Regions from separate parts of the Homo sapiens genome. Here regions 1 and 3 are each linked to region 2. Evidence: fine-mapped expression QTL. A gene starts in region 2. Each other region holds a variant in brackets. All regions are shown on one strand. Distances are from middle to middle.

Region 1 (4,246 bases), 60 kb before region 2:
CCCAAAGTGCTGGGATTACAGGCGTGAGCCACCATGCCCATGGGGCAATTAAATTTTAACATGAGTTTTGGAGAAGACAAACATTCAAACCATGGTAGTCTTCATCCTCATTTTCGCGAATTACAGCTTTTAAAACCCTTAGAATCTCTGAGGTGATGAGAGTATCTTTTGCCCTGGGTGGTGGCTCACGCTTGTAATCCCAGCACTTTGGGAGGCCGAGGTGGGCGGATCACCAGGGGTCAGGAGTTTGAGACCAGCCTGACCAACATCGTGAAACCCCATCTCTACTAAGAATACACAATTAGCCGGGCATGGTGACACATGCCTGTAATCCCAGCTACTTGGGACGCTGAGGCAGGAGAATCGCTTGAACCTGGGAGGCGGAGGTTGCAGTGAGCTGAGATCACGCCATTGCACTCTAGCCTGGGCAACAAGAGTGAAACTCCGTCTCAAAAAAATAAAAATAAAAATAAAAATAAAAAAGTATCTTTTGCATGCTAATGAGATAACTGGTGGCTGAGGCTCCTAGGTAGATTTAGGACGGGGGCGCTGGTCAAGGCAGGATTAGAGAGTTGAGACTTTTTCACCACACCCCCAGCCTCTGGGGAAGGGAGAGGAGCTGAAGGTTAAATTGACTAGCAGTGGCCAATGATGTAATCAATCATGCCTACATAGTAAAGCCTCTATTTTATTTATTTTTTATTTTTATATTTTGAGATGGAGTCTCACTCTTGTTGCCCAGGCTGGAGTATAATGGCGTGATCTTGCCTCACTGCAACCTCCATCTCACGGGTTCAAGCGATTCTCCTGCCTCAGCCTCCCAAGTAGCTGGGATTACAGGCATGCACCACCACGCCTGGCAAATTTTGTATTTTTAGTAGAGACAGGGTTTTGCCATGTTGGTGGGGCTGGTCTCGAACTCCTGACCTTATGTGATCCACCCACCTCGGCCTCCCAAAGTGCTGGGATTACAGGCGTGAGCCACCGTGCCTGGCTGTAAAGTCTATAAAAACCCGAAAGAATTGGGTTTGGAGAGCTTCTGGATAGCGAACACATGGAGGTACCTAGAGGGTGCTGTGCTTGTAGGGGGCATGGAAGCTTGGTGCCCCTTATCCTGTACCTTGTCCTATGTGATTGTTCCATCTGGCTGTCCATCTATATGCTTTGTAATATCCTTTATAATAAACCTGTAAACATGTTTTTCAGAGTTCTGTGACCCTCTCTAGCAAATTAATCAAACCCAAGGGGAGGGTCATGGGAACCCTGATTTACAGTGGGTCAGTCAGAAGCATAGCTTACAACCTGGCATCTGAAGTGGAGAGCAGTCTTGTGAGCCTGAGCTCTCAAACTGTGGGATCTGACACTATCTCCAGGTAGGTAGTAACAGAACTGAATTCAATTAGAGGACATCCAGCTGGTGTCCACTGCAAAACTGATTGCTTGATGTATGGGAAAATTCTCCCATACATCTGGGGCTACAGAAGCATTCTATATTAAATAGAGAGTATAGGAAAATCCACATTTTGTTTACTCCCCCCTGTATCTTACAGTGAGAGTGAGCGGTCAAGGGTGACTTCTCAGTTTCTGGCTTGTACAACTGGATGTTTGGAGTAACAGCATTAAGAAGCAGGACCTTTAAGATCACATTGAATACTAAGTTCAGGTATGAGGACTGTGAGTTTAGTCTTAGACATACTGTGTTTGACGTGCCTTTGAGAACACCCAAGAGAATATAGGTAGTTGGATGGATGGATCTAGAGCTCAGAAGGGGCCTATATATTGGATATATAAATTGTGTGCTATATGGATATAGTTGATAATTCAAGCCATGTGTGGGGATAAGGTTGTCTAGGCCAAAGAGTATCAGAGTGAGAATGCAGGAGATCAAAGAAGGAGGCTTGAGAAACTCCAGTATTTCATGTGGAGTACAGGAGAGTCAGCCTGCAAAGGAGACTGGGAAACAGCAGCCAGGGAGGTTTAAAAGAAAGTTAGGAGGGACTTGTGTCATTGAAGCCAAAGAAAGAAACTGTTTCAAGATGTAGGGAATGGACTGTTAACAATGTCCATTGCTGCTCAGAGGTCAAATAAGATGTGGACTGGTAAATATGTGTTGCATTTAAGAATATGGAGGCATTGGTGTCCTGGATGGATCTATTTTCATGGAATGACGGGGCAGAAATCTAGAATGGAACAGATTGGAGTGTGGTTAGCAGAGAGAGGAAGGCACTTTTTTTTTTTTTTTTTGAGACGGAGTTTCACTCTTGTTGCCCAAGCTGGAGTGCAATGGTGCGATCTCGGCTCAC[T/C]GCAACTTCCGCCTCCCGGGTTCAAGCAATTTTCCTGCCTCAGCCTCCCGAGTAGCTGGGATTACAGGCGCACACCACCATGCCCGACTAATTTTTTGTATTTTTAGTAGAAACGGGGTTTCACCATGTTAGCCAGGCTGGTCTTGAACTCCTTACCTCAGGTGATCCGCCTACCTCAGCCTCCCAAAGTGCTGGGATTACAGGTGTGAGGTACTGCGCCCAGCCGGTAGGCAAGTAATGGAAACAAAGAATATAGGCAGCTATTTGAAGCACTTTGGCTGTGAAGGGCATGGAAAAGTCAGGGTAGAAGCAGGAGCGAGACTACGGGTCAAGAGAGGCCTTTCAAATTATTTATTTATTTATTTTTTTGAGACAGGGTCTCACGCTGTTGCCCAGGCTGGAGTGCAGTGGCACAATCACAGCTCACTGCAGCCTTGATTTCTTGGGCTCAGGCGATTCTCCCACTTCAGTCTTCTGAGTAGCTGGGATTAGAGGTGCGCACACCACCACGCTGGGCTAATTTTTGCATTTTTTGTAGACATGGGGTCTTGCCATGTTACCCAGTCTGGTCTCGAATTCCAGGGCTCAAGCAATCTGCCTGCCTTAGCCTCCCAAAGTGCTGGGATTACAGTCTTGAGCTGCTGCACCCAGCCAAGGACTTTTTTTAATGGAGAAATTTTGTGGATGTGTAAAGTTTACAATTAAGGGTCTGTAGGGAGTGAGTGGTTAAAAATACAGCAGAGAGATGGGATAAATCATAGAGTACGTTTGCTAAGAGAGAGGAGCATCTGGAATCGAAAGCATAGGTGGAGGAATTAGTGTTCACTAAAAGGCAAGAGCATCTCTGTCTTAATTGAGGAACTAACTGCTGGTAGGATGTGTGCAGGTATAGTTGGTTTATGTTTGGTGTTAGGAAGATGAGAGACAACTTCCTTCTAAAGGCTCCCCCAACCCCGTTATTTTTTCTGTAAATGAGGGTGTGGTCATCTGCATGTAGAGATAATAAGGAGGAGGAGTTGGAAGGCTGAAGAGAATGGAGAAGGTTCAATGAGTTGTAAGGGTGAGAGCAGGTTGTAGGTTGACCAGAGAAAAATAGAAGGACTGCTGAGAAATGTTGATGGCTCACTTCTGGTTGTTGATGGTAAATTTACTATGAGCCAAGCTTTATTTTTTTCTAAGTGCTTCTCTAAGTGTTCTAGTGTTTTATTTAATCCCCAAAGCAGCTCTATGAGGTAGGTATTATTATTATCACCCCCTTGTCACAGATGGTAAAATGGAGGTACAGCAAAGTTGTGTCATTTGTTTAAGGACAAAGAGCTAGCTAGGTTTGGAGCCAGGTAGTCTGACTCCAAAGCCCATGATCTTAACCATCACTCTAAAATATATCCTAAAAATAGGTCCTGATCATACTTTTTCATTGATAAACATAGATCTGTATAATCACATTTAAGGACTACATTGTTGGTTTTATGCTTGATGGTCTGTCCAGTGACTTTTCCAGAAACTCTCTAGCTGCATTCTTGAGTCAATGCCAAATCTCAGAAAGGAGAGAGCTTATTTGAACCCTATGTTACAAGAGTTTTGATTTCCTTTCCTTCTAGTTTGTTGTATTTTCCAATTTTCTATAGAGAGTACATATAATTTTCATTTTGTGGGGAAAAATAAAGTTAACATCTCTAAAATAAAAAAGCCAGGCTAGGAAGGGAATAGAGGTCTAAGACTCAGTGTTTTTAAAATCTACTATAGCTAAACATGTTTACTTTGTGTCTTAGTTTATTTTGTGTTACTATAACAGAATATCTGAGACTGTGTAATTTATAAAGAAAAGAGGTTTATTTAGAGGTTTATTTAGTTTTGCAGGCTGGGAAGTTCAAGGGCATGGCCTCAGCTTCTGGTGAGAGCTTTCTCTCTCTCATTTTTTTTTTCAAGACAGAGTCTTGCTC
Region 2 (4,246 bases):
CCATCCCTTGGGTTCAAGCCATTCTCCTGACTCAGCCTTGCAAGTAGCTGGGGTTATAAGCGCCTGCCACTGCGCCCGGCTAATTTTTGTATTTTTAATAGAAACGGGGTTTCACCACGTTGGCCAGGCTGGTCTTGAACTCCTGACCTCGTGATCCACCTGCTTCGGCCTCCCAAAGTGCTGGGATTACAGGTGTGAGCCACCGTGCCCGGCTGCGTCAGTTTTTTCAAACCTTACAAGCATTGCGAAAAAAAAAAATTCTAGTAAATATATCTTTGTGAAACTGTGTAGGCATATAGGTTGGCTAAATTCCAAGGAATAGAATTATTGGGTCAAAGAATTTGTGAAATATTATAGTTATCATTTAATAGAGTTTGCCAAATTGCCCTATATAAAAAGCTTGCATCAATATCTGCCTCCAACAGAGTAGAGGAGTGCCCATTTCTTGACAAACCAGTCAACAATATTATCAAGTTTCTAAACTTTGAGAAAATCATACTTGAAACATGGTAAGGCATAGTTGCTTTGATTTGCATTTCTTTGTTTGAGCATCTTTTCATATGTTTATTAGTAATCTATTTCTTTTCTGTGAACAAATCTGTTCATGTCTTTTGGCACATTTTTCTATTGGGTTGTTTATCATTTTACTAATGATCTGTAAGAGCTTTTAGATTATTACAAGTTAGCCTTTTGACAGTCAATGTTTATGGTTTTTTTTTTTTACTTTACCAAAGTTTAAAATTTGTATGCAATTAATTTATCAATATTTTCCTTTGGTGGAGAAAGTAAGTTCGTCACTTTCAATTGAGTTCTGAAAAGCCATTAGTAAGATTGTAAGGCACTAGGACTTCCTTTCTTGGCTCCTGAAAGGGCCTCCTCCACACAGGGGCCCCTCACAGTGGAGCCCCTCCCTCTGGGGTGTCCTATTTCAATGTTCTAAGAAAGAGGCTGCCTGGAGGGTCTATATTTGGAGTATGACTCCTCAGCGGGGACAGGTGGATGCGTGGGGACTAACTTCTGCATATTTGGTCCCTGAGTTTTGGGATTATTCTGAGGGGCTTGTATGGGAGGTGCAGTGAAGTTGTAACACAAGGCAGGACATGAAAAAACTTCTTTTTCTTGGCAATTGCTTGGGATCCTGTACATTGCCCTTCCACTTGTGAGGGAAAAAAATAATGACACGGACATCAGGTGTGTTGCAGTGATTCACAGTCATCCACAGACCCTCACCACCATCTCCACTGGAAAATATTGAACACTCGCCACTGCTAGGGTAGTATGTAGTACATGAATGGCAGACACCGGCGAGATCTCAAGTGTTACGACGGATGAAAATTCCACCTGTTAAGTCTCCTTTCCATCCAAGCTCTAGCAGTTGGTTGTTCCATGGGTGTGGTGAGGCTGATCTGATTACATGCTTATGTAAAATCCAAATAAAGCCCCTTGAATGGAAAACAGGTTAATTTGGGAAGTCACTAGTAAAGCAGGTTAATTTGGTAAGTCACTAGTAAAGCACTAGGCTCATCAGGAGTTGGGTCTTAAATATATCCTCTAGAAGTCTTCTCTGAAGAAGGTCTTAGACACCTGAAAAAAGATGCTGAGTTCAGCCAGAACTTCAAAAGTTACAAATCACCTGTGTAAAATTGTCAATATTAGAAAACGAAATGTCTTTCCAAAGATTAACTTATAGATCATATTGAATACGTGCTGGTTTTGTTTAGGACAATTTTGTATTTAAAATGTCAAGAATTACTAGTCAATTTTGAAAGCTGTAAAATAGTTTGCAGTAACAGAAGACATTTTAAAATGTGGCACAAAATAATGTAAACAAAAGAATGAGTCTTTTGTTATTTTTACACCCTGAATATTTTTTGTGTCAAATGAAAATGGCTATACTGTATTTTCTGATTACAATATTAGAAAAGAATGTCATATTAAAAGAAAAAAAAGGAACACGAAAAAGAAAATTAAAGCTCTACTTGCACCTTCTGCTTTCCTTCCTGATACCCCCTTCCACAGCCCATTTGGTGCAGGCATTGTACTTAGAGAGGGCAGGTCGTGTAGGGGGCGGGTGGGGAGTGCTGGTCTTATAGTCTAAGAGAGAAATAAGTGATTACTCAAAGAAGAAACATAAAAGGCCACAGCCAAGGGCCGGGAGTGGGTAGGGGGATGCAGACCCTCCCCTGTAACTGAAGATGGGTAAACTCCAACCACAAGGCGATGATGCCACTTGTGGGCCCTCAGATTGGAGAGGACGGAGATGAGTGACAACGCGTGCGCACTGGGGCACCGAGCACAGACCAGAGAACGGGGATGTCTGTGCGTGCGGAGTGGAGGAGGGGGGAGTTCCTGGTGACTGGCCGCCGGCCCTTGGTGGGTGGTAGGGGGTGCTGGGGAGGAGGGCGAGCTCGGCGGTGACGCGCGGTCCTCACGTGACCCGGAGCTGCAGAGCTACGCAGCCTTCGTTGCAGTCGTCACTCGCATCTGGCTACCAGCTCCCCGCTGCCCTGCGCTCGGCGGGCTGGCATCGGGCCCGGGGAAAGCGGAGCAGGTAAGGGCCCTGGGGCCCGCGCGCCCTGGCCAGGCCGGCAGAAGCTCACTGACCCCGGCAGCGGTTACGGGGCTTGAGGGGGCGGTGGTCTATGCTGCCTCAAGTTCGAGGAGCCTTTGCCTCTGATTCTCCCTAGCCCCCTTGCCCCCGCCTACATCTGTGCAGGCGAACCGTGGGCTTTGATTTGTGGGGAGATTGTCTCTGCCAGAGGGAAATACAGAGATTGAGATGCCCATCGCTCTAATCACTGGCCACACATGTCCGCTCGCTTCCTGCTCAATTTAGTGGAAGGGATGCGCCACGGTGGCGTTTGCAGAGAAAATGGTGGGCCTTAGAGACTGGACGGTGGGGTTGGTAAGGGTGGTGTCTCAGACTGTGGGGAGGGACGTTTGATAACCAGGTTCCTGAACCCGGAAAGGCGAGTATTGGGATCTATGTCCTGGGCTCTAGACCAACACTAAGTGGTTTTACTCTCTCCTGTCTGTCGGACAGTAGTTCGGTGTAGCACTGTTTGCGGCGAGGAGAAAGGAAGGAGAGGAGAAAACTGCACTGGATCAAGGAGGTTAGTGTGAGTACAGACACTATCTAAACCATTGGAGTTCCATATGAATTCTATGACAGGAACTTAGGTGCGGCTGTCTGAATGGGATGTGGGGTGGGGCTAGCTTGGGGACTTTCCCTAAACTGCATTTTACTTACCAAGCTTAGGACTTTTAAATTGTATGTTGAAGACCAATGAAGACAGCAAACTTTTCTACAGATGCTTTTATTTGCATTTCAGATAATATTGAGAAAAAGATAAATTATATTAAAGAATATTATTATTATTATTATTTTTTAGATAGCCTTTGGTGGGGAAGGATAGTGATTTTGTAGAAGCAAAAGGCTTCCCCTATAGCTTTTCTCTTCTGCTGGAGACTCCTAGAGATAGGTTGAAAGGGACGTGGACAGCAGTAGGTTGTGGTTCTAGAGTATGGGATCTGGGGTCTCCCATCTCTCCTGCCATCCTTCAGTTTTCCAGATCCCTCTACCTACCTGACCATCTTGGTGAAGGAAATGGTGGGCTTTTGGGGAAATCCCTAGAACCCTACAGGTGGTTTTAAAATAATTTGCCTTGTTGGGCCTAGTAGCTCTTGCCTGTAATCCCAGCACTTTGAGAGACCCAAGCAAGAGGATTGCTTGAGCTCAGGTGTTCAAGACCAGCCTGGGCAACATAGCGAGACTTCATCTCTACATATAATTTAAAAATTAGCTGGGTATGGTGGCACAGTCTGTAGTTCCTGCTACTTGGGAGGCTGAGGTGGGAGGATCTTTTGAGCCTGGGAGGTCGAGACTGTGGTGAGCCATGATCTTGCCACTGCAATCCAGCCTGGGTGACAGAGTGGGGCTCTGTCTCAAAATAAATAAAAAATAAAATAAATAAAATAAAATAAAATAAAATAAAATAACGTGCCTCTGTCTGTTGCCTTTTACTTTTCCTGCCTCCCTTTTCCATCCTTCCCATTTCAGTGCTGGGGAAGCCCCAGGCTTTTTTTTTTTTTTTTTTCTGCCAGCAAATGGGTCTCTAAATCCAGGCAGGCAGGTACAGGGACCTATGTCTTAGATGGTAAGTGTCACAAGTACTTAACATCCACTCTCTTCTTTTTCTCCATCTGTTCCAAGGTCTTCCCATAGGCCTGCAGTAGGGCTGTTTAC
Region 3 (4,246 bases), 48 kb after region 2:
AAATGATACCAGAGGGAAACTTGAACCTCAGGAATGGAGAAGCAATAGAAATGATAAATATCTGAGTAAATAGAAAATACTTTTTTCCTCTTTTGTTCTTTAAAAATAGCTGTTACACTAGTTTCCTACTGCTATAACAAATTGTATAAAATGTTACCACACACTCAATTGCTTAAAACAAGACAAATTTATTATCATACAGTTCTAGAGGTCAGAAGACTAAAATGGGTTGAAAGGGCTGTGTTACCACTGGATGCTCTAGTGGAGAATCTATTTCCTTGCATTGTCCAGCTTCTACAGGCGGCCTGAATTCCACTGTTTCACTGCCTGATTCTATTGTCACATCTTTTTCTGACTCATCTGCTTCCTTCCTTCCTTTACAAGGACGCTGTGATTACACTGGGCCCACCCAGATAGAACTGGATAATCTTCCTATCTCAATATTCTTAACATAATCACATCTGCAAAGTCCCTTTTGCTATATGAGGTAACATATTCACAGGTTCCAATATGTAGACATCTTTGAGGAGCCATTATTCTTCCCACAACAACAATTGTCAAGGATTCAATAATTCTTATACAATTTAAAGTGTTCTAGAGCTTAGGAAAATGTAGAAATTTACCTAATTCTTTCTCTAAGGCTAACATAATGCTTATGTCCAAACAAAGAAGAATAGAAGTAAAAAAGTAAACATGAGAGGTCAGTCTAACTTAGAACTATAGATGTAAATATCCAAAATAGAATAGTAGTAAATTCAAGCTAGTACTGTGGCAAAATAATAGAATAGTGCAAATAGTCATATTTTTATGTCTATGTTATCTTTGCTAGATTTTAGCATCGATATTATGGAAGCTATGCCTGGACTCAACAACACGAACTTCTACTCACCAAGGCTGATCTTGTACTAATACTAAGTGCCCAACCTGACAACAGAGAAGATGATGAGCCTTTATAAGACACCATTCCTTAGGGGCATCAGCCAGTCCCATGGTGTTAGGATTATTACATGGGACACCTTTCATCATCATGAAAACAGAAACTTTTCCTCATGGAAATGAATATGTATTTTAGACACACATTTACCTTCTTTGCTGACAATGATTCTGTCATCACCATCTCCATGGACTTCCAGAATGCCTTAATCATCATCAGAGTATCCTACACAAAGTTGTCTCTGACCAAGGAACTCATTTAATGGTAAGTGAAGTGCACATCCAAAGATTCACTAGTCTTTACTACTTACTTTACCATGCAGAAGCAGCTTGCCTTACACAAAAATAAATAACTTACTGGAAGCTTAGTTATGGGATCAGCTGTTCCTGGGAGTACTGTACGACAAGATTGCAATAGATGCTTTAACAGAGCCACCCATATATGGTGCTTTTTTTCCCCATAGTGAGGTTACACAGGACTAGGAATAAAGAAGTCATGAAAGCAGTGGCCCTTTTCACTATTGCACCAGTTAACCTACTGAAGAAGTATGTGATTCTTTTTTTCTGTCTCCACAACCTTGGGCTCTTAGGTATATCAGGGATGAATGCTTTCACCAGGGAATAAAGCCATGGTTCCATTATATTAAAAGCTGAGACTACATTCTGGCCATTTTTGTCCTCTCGTGCCACTGAACTGACAGGCAGGGAAAGGGGCTGCTATAGTGGCTAGAGGGATTGAGCCCAATTACTAAGGGGAAATAAGGTTGCTGATATACAAACAGGGAGAGCAATGCTCAGAGCCCAGGGATACTCACTGGGGCACCTCCTAGTACTGCTTTGCCTAATAGTCCTGGGAAGTGGGAAAGTGCAGAAATTCAATAAATACAGGATTGAAGATTAGGGTCACTACATCAGGGAAATAATTTTGACCAGGTTTCTGTAAGGGGAATATGAAATGGGTGGTAGAAGAATGAAGTTGATTATTGACTTTGGCCTCATGATCAGCTTCAGTGGGAAACTGTAACAGCTATGCACATCTTTGTTAATTTATTTTTCTCTTCCTTTCCTCTGATTATATGAAAAATACTTGAGATAATTGTTATAAATCAGGTTTCAGGTGGGCGAATATGATTGAATTAGCATTATCCCGTGACAGTACGGTGGCTGATGGGATTTTTTTTGTCCCTGCCTCCCTGTTGGGAGAATAGAATAACAAGAATAGATGCTGAATGTGAAAGGAGTGGGCCATGGTGGTTAGTCTTTATTTTCCCACACATCCTGATTCATTTCCTGTCCTTCTCTGTCTTGTTCTATGCCCTGGGCGGCTGATCCTTAGGGACTGCATCCCCCAGACTCCATTTGTAATTGACTTCTGCTTGGGTTTGGTCAATGGAATGCCCTGGCACAGCTTTGGA[G/C]GGAAGAAGAGAGAAGACAATGTATTTCTTCACTGCTCCCACTCTGATTTGGGCTATGTTTTATTGGCAGGGACTGCATCCCTTCAAGATTTTAGCTTCTTCCAGAAGTCCCCTCCTCCATGACTCTAGCTCTCACTAGGCTCCAGAAATACTATTTCTTCCTCTTGCCCTCTTAGGCCTAGGGTAACAGCTACCTGCTATTGCTAACCTCTGGGTGCCACAAAATTGCTTGTTGGGTCTCATAATCTTGCATATACCTCTGTAAGTAGTCCCTACATTAAAGTCCCTTGAACCATCTGATTTAGATTTTTTTACTGGCTAGGACTCTGACTGAGGTGCTGGTGTGAGGCCTAGAATTACTGCAGCTATTTTGATACCATTAGAATGCACAGTCAAGGATAAAGCTTTCATGTAAGGAAGGGTATAGCAGAGAAAATTATAGAAAAATGAAGCAGAATCTTAATCAAATTGTACTTAAAGTCAGATAACTTCTGGATGCAACTCACTGAAGTAAGAATAGGTGGATATTTCTTAAATATGACAAAAATATATACATTTCTAACAAGAAGCCTTTCATGTTTAAGGGATAAACACTAGAAGCATTTCCATTAAAATTAGGAAAAAGACAAGAATGCCAGTTATTTCCACAATTATTTAACATTGTTCTAGAAGTACTAGTTAATGCAGTCAACCAAGAGAAAGAAATGTAATATTGATATTGGAAAGGAAGGGGCAGGCAAGATTATCATTACCACAAATGAAGCAAATCTAAGAGAATCAACTAAAGACTACTTGAAACCTTTGGAACTCCATAAAAAGGCTGGTTATGAAATCAATAGAATAAAAACTGATCACTTTCATATATAAAAACAACAAACAAAATGTAAAATAAGAAAAAAAATCTAAATTACAATAGCCATGGGAAAAGATAAGCTCCTTTTGAATAAACTTAACAAAAAAATCTGTAAGACATATCCATTCATTCAGTAAATATGGATTGATAACCTACAGTGTGCCAGGCAATGTTCTAGGAGTTATTTTTATTTAAAAAATTTAGAAACTGCTGAGAAAAATAAAGACAAATAAGTAGAAAAACTGGGTTGTTGGATAGAAAGATATTCCTGTAAAGATGCCAATTATCACTCAGTTAACTTATAAATTATGTGCAACACAAATTGAAATTAAAAACGGTAGTTTTTAGGGGACTATAACAAAATAACAGATTTTAGTCTCTAAATAAATACATGTGAACAGGCAGGTAATGATAAAAAAGATGAGTTATGAGAGACCTTACCCTTCAGATATTGAAACATATTATGAAGATACTATAGTTAAAACAGTTTGTTATTTAAGAAGAAAGAAAAGATAACAGATTAAAAGAATATAATAAAGAATAAAGAAATAGATACAAACATATGTGGATGTTTAGATTATGATAATTATGGTAAAGATGGCACTTTATTTTTTATTTTTTGGGTATTATACATTTAATTTAAAGACTTCGAAGTAAAAAAAAAAGGTACAGAAATACAGATTACATTGTGATGACCCCAGTAGTATTCTACATGACAAAAATAAAAACAGATTTAAGTAAATGTATCGGCACTGAACAAGCATTTACTTAACATCCAATCCAGGCTGCATATGCACAAAATGATCTGACCACATGCTTATGCAAAGTAGTTTTTCTTAGAACGCCAAAATTCCAACCATTCTGACTGTCCGCTGCGCATTCCCCTGTTGAGTATTTTGAGCGAACTTCTATAGAATATAAAAACAATTGGCATGGCACTTAAAGACTGCAAAAAACAGAACACAATTAAAAACATTTATAATGCATTTCTGTATAAAATATACACCATAAAGACCACCCTGAATAATGGTTAAAACCTCATCAT

The links. PIP is the estimated chance that this variant, and not a neighbour inherited with it, causes the effect. A credible set is the group of variants that fine-mapping cannot tell apart.
Region 1: its variant is the best candidate, but not a certain one, in a credible set for the expression of ARMCX4 in esophagus muscle (GTEx, PIP 0.74).
Region 3: its variant is the best candidate, but not a certain one, in a credible set for the expression of ARMCX4 in whole blood (TOPMed, PIP 0.64).

Annotation. Positions count from the first base shown.
Region 1 is chrX:101,423,167-101,427,412 of GRCh38, forward strand. It overlaps a transcript of ARMCX4 not described here. Among named protein-coding and RNA genes, the nearest start is that of HNRNPH2, 17 kb to the left of the region's middle. The variant T/C (reference allele first, on the strand shown) is at 2,304.
Region 2 is chrX:101,482,980-101,487,225 of GRCh38, forward strand. ARMCX4 (armadillo repeat containing X-linked 4) reads left to right here and starts at 2,477. Exons shown (of 6, transcript NM_001256155.3): 1 at 2,477-2,551; 2 at 3,044-3,113; 3 at 4,214-4,246.
Region 3 is chrX:101,530,815-101,535,060 of GRCh38, forward strand. It overlaps a transcript of ARMCX4 not described here and the pseudogene PRKCIP1. Among named protein-coding and RNA genes, the nearest start is that of ARMCX1, 18 kb to the right of the region's middle. The variant G/C (reference allele first, on the strand shown) is at 2,349.